Regions from separate parts of the Homo sapiens genome. Here region 1 is linked to region 2. The links come from fine-mapping of genetic effects on gene expression. A gene starts in region 2. The other region holds a variant in brackets. All regions are shown on one strand. Distances are from middle to middle. Region 1 has its middle 11 kb from the start of CHKA-DT. Region 2 holds the start of UNC93B1 (unc-93B1 regulator of TLR signaling).

The links. PIP is the estimated chance that this variant, and not a neighbour inherited with it, causes the effect.
Region 1: its variant is fine-mapped to the expression of UNC93B1 in whole blood (TOPMed, PIP above 0.99).

What each region holds. Positions count from the first base shown.
Region 1 is chr11:68,131,188-68,134,088 of GRCh38, reverse strand. No RefSeq gene overlaps it. Among named protein-coding and RNA genes, the nearest start is that of CHKA-DT, 11 kb to the right of the region's middle. The variant C/T (reference allele first, on the strand shown) is at 1,069.
Region 2 is chr11:68,002,616-68,005,511 of GRCh38, reverse strand. It overlaps UNC93B1 (unc-93B1 regulator of TLR signaling), which reads left to right and starts at 1,415. Exons shown (of 11, transcript NM_030930.4): 1 at 1,415-1,564; 2 at 1,714-1,855; 3 at 2,337-2,490. The coding sequence starts at 1,469. RefSeq lists enhancers at 372-914, 915-1,458, 2,363-2,412, 2,513-2,562, 2,663-2,862 and silencers at 1,293-1,592, 1,653-2,062.

The DNA.
Region 1 (2,901 bases), 130 kb before region 2:
GGGAGCAGTTATGGGAATTGAGAAAGACACTGTTGTTTGTAGAGGGACTAAGGCCCTCCAAGGGGGACAAGAAGAATTATAATTGGTGGTACCATCAGGGAAAATATGTGTGGAATTCCAAGGCGAGGAAATATAGTGAGGCCTGGCTGACTCTCCCTCCCCCTACCCACTTCCTGTCATGGCCTCAACTAGATTTTCAGGTGCATGTGTTTTTTTTTTTTTTTTTTTTTTTTTTTCTGGTCATGGTATGCCAGAGGCAGTATCATGGCCAAGCTTTTATTGTGCCCCATATCGATGCCAGGGTGGTGTGCTACCTGCCCTGGCTATATTATGTCCCTAAGTGGGACCGCTGTGGCCAAGAGACTTAGAATCAAAAGACGTGTAGACAGTTAAATATGCTAGGCCAGATGAAATGGAGGTGGACAGGCACTCATTCATCCCTTTTTTTTTTTTTTTTTAGACAGAGTCTCGCTCTGTTGCCCAGGCTGGAGTGACCCTGGGAGGTGGAGCTTGCGGTGAGCTGAGATCACGCCACCGCACTCCAGTCTGGGCGACAGAGCGAGACTCCATCTCAAAACTAACAAACAAAAAATTGAAAAGCAAAATTTCTTATAATTTCATTAAGAGCAAATCAATACCTTAAGCAGACCTTCTTTTAACATAGGGGACCATTCCTTAGAAAGGAGAAATAATCTCCTTTTAATCGCAGCTAACTTAATCACAAACAAAATTCCTGTTTTTGTAAATTCCCCTTTACAAATCTTTTTTTTTTTTTTTTTTTTTTTGAGACGGAGTCTCGCTCTGTCGCCCAGGCTGGAGTGCAGTGGCGGGATCTCGGCTCACTGCAAGCTCCGCCTCCCGGGTTCACGCCATTCTCCTGCCTCAGCCTCCCAAGTAGCTGGGACTACAGGCGCCCGCCACTACGCCCGGCTAATTTTTTGTATTTTTAGTAGAGACAGGGTTTCACCGTTTTAGCCGGGATGGTCTCCATCTCCTGACCTCGTGATCCGCCCGCCTCGGCCTCCCAAAGTGCTGGGATTACAGGCCTGAGCCACCGCGCCCGGCCTC[C/T]CCTTTACAAATCTTATCACAACTTACACAAACCATCTATGTCCTGCTTGGACTTTCTGACTTGTCCTAGACTATTTCTCTCTTTCTTCATTTTCTCTTTCTTTTTTTTTTTTTGAGATGGAGTTTTGCTCTTGTTGCCCAGGATGGAGTGCAATGGTGTGATCTCAGCTCACCACAACCTCCGCCTCCCAGGTTCAAGCAATTCTCCTGCCTCAGCCTCTCTAGTAGCTGGGATTACAGGTCTGTGCCACCATGCCCAGCTAATTTTGAATTTTTAGTAGAGACGGGGTTTCTCCATGTTGGTCAGGCTGGTCTCGAACTCCCGACCTCAGGTGATCCACCCGCCTCAGCCTCCCAAAGTGCTGGGATTACAGGCATGAGCCACCACACCCAGCTTCTCTCTGTCTTCCTTCCTTCCTTTCCTTCCTTCCTTCTCTCTCTCTCCCTCCCTCCCTCCATCCCTCCCTCCCTCCCTCCTTCCTTCCTTCCTTCCTCTCTCTCTCCCTCTCTCTCCTTCCTTCCTTCCTTCTTTCCTTCCTTCTTTCTTTCCTTTTTTAAAGACAGGGTCTTGTTCTGTTGCTCAGGATGAAATGCAGTGGCACAATCTTGGCTCACTGCAGCCTGAATCTCCTCGGCTTAAGCAATCTTCCCACCTTAGCCTCCCGAGTACCTGGGACTACAGGCACATGCTGCCATGCCCAGCTAAGTTTTATATTTTTGGGGAGACAGTGTTTCACCATGTTCCCCAGGCTGGTCTCAAACTCCTGAGCTCAAATGATCCCCCTGCCTCAGCCTCCCAAAGTTTTGGGATTACAGGTGTGAGCCACCACATCTGGCCTTCCTCTTTCTTAAATAACCAGTCATTCTACTCTAGGACAATAATTTTCCATACAAGATCCTTTCTCATATAAAGGTATTGTCTTTTCTTTATAAGCTTCTTTGCCAAAAATACATCTTTGTATCCATAATTTTTTTCACATCTCTCTCTCCCCTACTTAATGGTTTCTTTCAACCTTGTTTAAGGACCTTTTTTTTTTTTTTTTTTTGAGATGGAGTTTCACTCTTGTCGCCCAGGCTGGAGTGCAATGGCATGATCTCAGCTCACTGCAACCTCTGCCTCCCCAGTTCAAGAGATTCTCCTGCCTCAGCCTCCTGAGTAGCTGGAATTACAGGCGCCCACCACCACACCCAGCTAATTTTTGTATTTTTAGTAGAGATGGGGTTTCACCATGTTGCTCAGGCTGGTCTCAAACTCCTGACCTCAGGTGATCCACCTGCCTTGGCCTCCCAAAGTGCTGGGATTACAGGTGTGAGCCACTGCGTCTGGCCAAGAACCACTTTTAACTCCATAATTTGAATTGACTTTTAGATAACTTTTTTTTTTTGGTATTTTTAGTAGAGATGTGTTTCACCATGTTGGCCAGGCTGGTCTTGAACTCCTGACCTGAAGTAATCCACCCAACTTGGCCTCCCAAAGTGCTGGGTTTACAGGCATGAGCCACTGCGTCTGGGCAGATAACTTCTGAATTAGACAAAATTCTTCTTTTTCTCAATAAGAACACATCTTTGGCACATTTTATATAAATCTAGAAAGCAAGAAATCCTGAAATGCCCATTAGATATTAGCATTTTATGGATGAGCAGCATTCCACAATTCTTTTTGTTCGTTTGTTTGTTGTTTTTGACATGGAGTCTCGCTGTGTTGCCCAGGCTGGAGTGCAGTGGTGCAAACTTGGCTCACTGCAACTTCCACCTCCCAGGTTCAAGCAATTCTCATGCCTCAGCCTCCCGAGTAGCTGGGATTACAGGTGTCTGCCACCATGCCTGGCTAAT
Region 2 (2,896 bases):
GGTGAAACCCCATCTCTACTAAAAATACAAAAATCAGCTGGGTGTAGGGGCACACGCCTGTAATTCCAGCTACTCACAAGGCTGAGTCAGGAGAATTGCACTTTCTCATCATACTGTGTAATGATGCTGGTGTCTGCCATCTGAGAACGGCCCCCGCCATAGCCATACTCTCCCACCTCCTCCCTGCCCCTGCGCCTCGGGCCCTGCCCTCTCTTCGGCTCCTTTCCTGTCTCCCACTTCCAGCCACCCACCTGCATGAATCCACCTGTCTGTTCCCCACATCTGCACTTGGGCATCGTCACCTGGAGAAAGTTCTACCTCCTGGAAGCCTGAAGCCACTGCAGATTCACGCCTCCCCCCACCTTCCCAGCAATCCTTGCGGGGTGGGAGGTGTTTGTCATCCAGTCACTCATGCACCCATCCAGTCACAAGTATTGATCACTCAGTAGGTGCCCAATGCCATCCTCTGCATTTGGGAGAGGATGTACCTAAAGAGCAGTGGGTGGAGGGGGGTGCACAGGGAGGGCATGGAAAACCAGAAGGGAAGTGAAGGGACTGCATTCTCTGCAGGGATGGTCTCTTGTTCTGAGAGCTGAGTGGGAAGGAAGCCACCTGGGAGGCGCAGCAGGAAGAGCATTCAAACCAGAAGGAACCCAGGGGAGAGAATCTGGATATTTTCAAAAGTGGCCCCGTGGCTCCAGCCAGGTCGGTGGTAGCCAGTGCTTTGGAGTGTCGGCCCCACCACAGGCTCCCGCTGCAGCCCGGGATCCAGTGCCCAGCAGGATGGGGGCAGGTGGCTCTGGGCCCCACTACATGGTTGTGGCAGGGTCCCCCATGTAGTTCAGTGGGGATCACAATCTCCACCTCCCAGGACCCACTCAAGCTCCCATTTGCACAGCCCAAACTGGAGCAGGATGGGGACATGGGAGGTGGGCTCTGGCTGTAGCGTCCGGTGGTGGGAGGTGGGGTCCAGGTGGTGACGCTACTGTCCCTGCAGTGCTCTTTGATGAGCTGTAACAGCAGGCTTGGAGGTGGGGCTGGGGACGACCCAGGCAACCCTGAGGGGAGCTTAAGGGAGCCAGGCAACCCTGGCACTTTTCCAAGGCTTTGCATTAACTCAATAGTTCCGCCATGGCCCCGGGGGTAGTGCCATGTATTTCTGTTTTACCGTCGAGGAAACGGAGGAAACCGAGGCACAAAGAAATGGAGTTAATTCCTAAAGTCACAGGGCCAGGAGGTGGCTGAGTGGGGATTCGAACTCACACCCCAGAGGGCACACACAGGCAGGCCCCTGCACACACGCGCGCGCGCGCGCGCACACACACATACACACACACGTGTCCTGGAGGAGGCGGCCCGCAGGGCGGGACAGGGCGGGGCGGGGGCAGGTCCCGGCCGCCGGGAGGAAGTGGCCGGGCGGTCGCAGGGACTCCGGGGCGACCGCCGCGAGTCCGCAGTAGTTCGGGCCATGGAGGCGGAGCCGCCGCTCTACCCGATGGCGGGGGCTGCGGGGCCGCAGGGCGACGAGGACCTGCTCGGGGTCCCGGACGGGCCCGAGGCCCCGGTGAGCGGGGACCCGGAGTGCGAGGCGCGGGCGTCCCCTGTGGGCCAGGGTCCCCCCGGCGGGGGCGGGGCGGGCCGGGGGGCGGCGGGCACCGGGGGACACGGGTTCGGGGCGCGATCGCGGGTGCGAGCGGCGTGCGTGGCTCGCAGCTGGACGAGCTGGTGGGCGCGTACCCCAACTACAACGAGGAGGAGGAGGAGCGCCGCTACTACCGCCGCAAGCGCCTGGGCGTGCTCAAGAACGTGCTGGCTGCCAGCGCCGGGGGCATGCTCACCTACGGCGTCTACCTGGGTAGGTGCCGCTCGGGGACCCGGGGCCGCCCCGCCCGCTCCCAGCCCGGCCCGGGAAACAGAAACCGCGGGCCGCCGCCTCCCGCCCGCTCTCACTTCCCCTCCGCTGCCCTCGCAGCTGCAGCCACGGCCCCCCGCGGCGGGGGTGGGGTTGGGGGGTCAAGTAGCGCAGCGTCCCCGGGTCCCAGCCAGAGCCTCGGTGTGGGTGGGGGACGGGGGTCCGGGCTCCCGGACAGACCTGCCACCGTCAGAATTGGAGGCCGGCGGAGCAAGGCGGGTGGGGGTCTGGGCTTAGCTGGCCAAGTGGCCGCGGGCTGGCAGAAGGCGTGGCGCAGCCCGGGAACCCCGCTGTCCTGAGGGGCGCTGTCAGCGGGAATGCCTTCGGTGATTGGAGCTCCCTGCGAGGCCTGCATGCCGTCTTCTGCTCGGTGGCGCCCAAAGCTAGGCTGCTCCCTGCACGCCGCTCTCTGTCCTGTCCCCAGGCCTCCTGCAGATGCAGCTGATCCTGCACTACGACGAGACCTACCGCGAGGTGAAGTATGGCAACATGGGGCTGCCCGACATCGACAGCAAAATGCTGATGGGCATCAACGTGACTCCCATCGCCGCCCTGCTCTACACACCTGTGCTCATCAGGTGGGCGCGGCTGCTCCTGTGGGATGCTGCGGTACTCCCATTTCGGAGGGGTACAGAGGCCGGCGGGCCAGGAGGTGTCCATCTGCCGGGGTGTTTGTGGGGCGAGGGAACAAGGGAGAGGTTTTTTTCTACCCGGAAGCCTGAGAGTGAAGGGGGTGAAACTCGGATTTGGGGAAGGAAACAGGAACTTTGCCTCAGGGCACATTTGGTTTCCAGCAACAGATTCACACGGGCTGAGCTCCCTCCCAGCTTGCCTGGGCCTCACGTGGCACCCTCCTCGTGGCCTCCTTGGAGGCCTCCCAGAGCCACTGTGGCCTTCAGGGTTGGGGCTGTAGAGTTAGGGGTTTCTGATCGGTCAGCAAAGTCCAGGCACCCATGCCTGGCCCAGTCGCTGTGACTGGTGCTG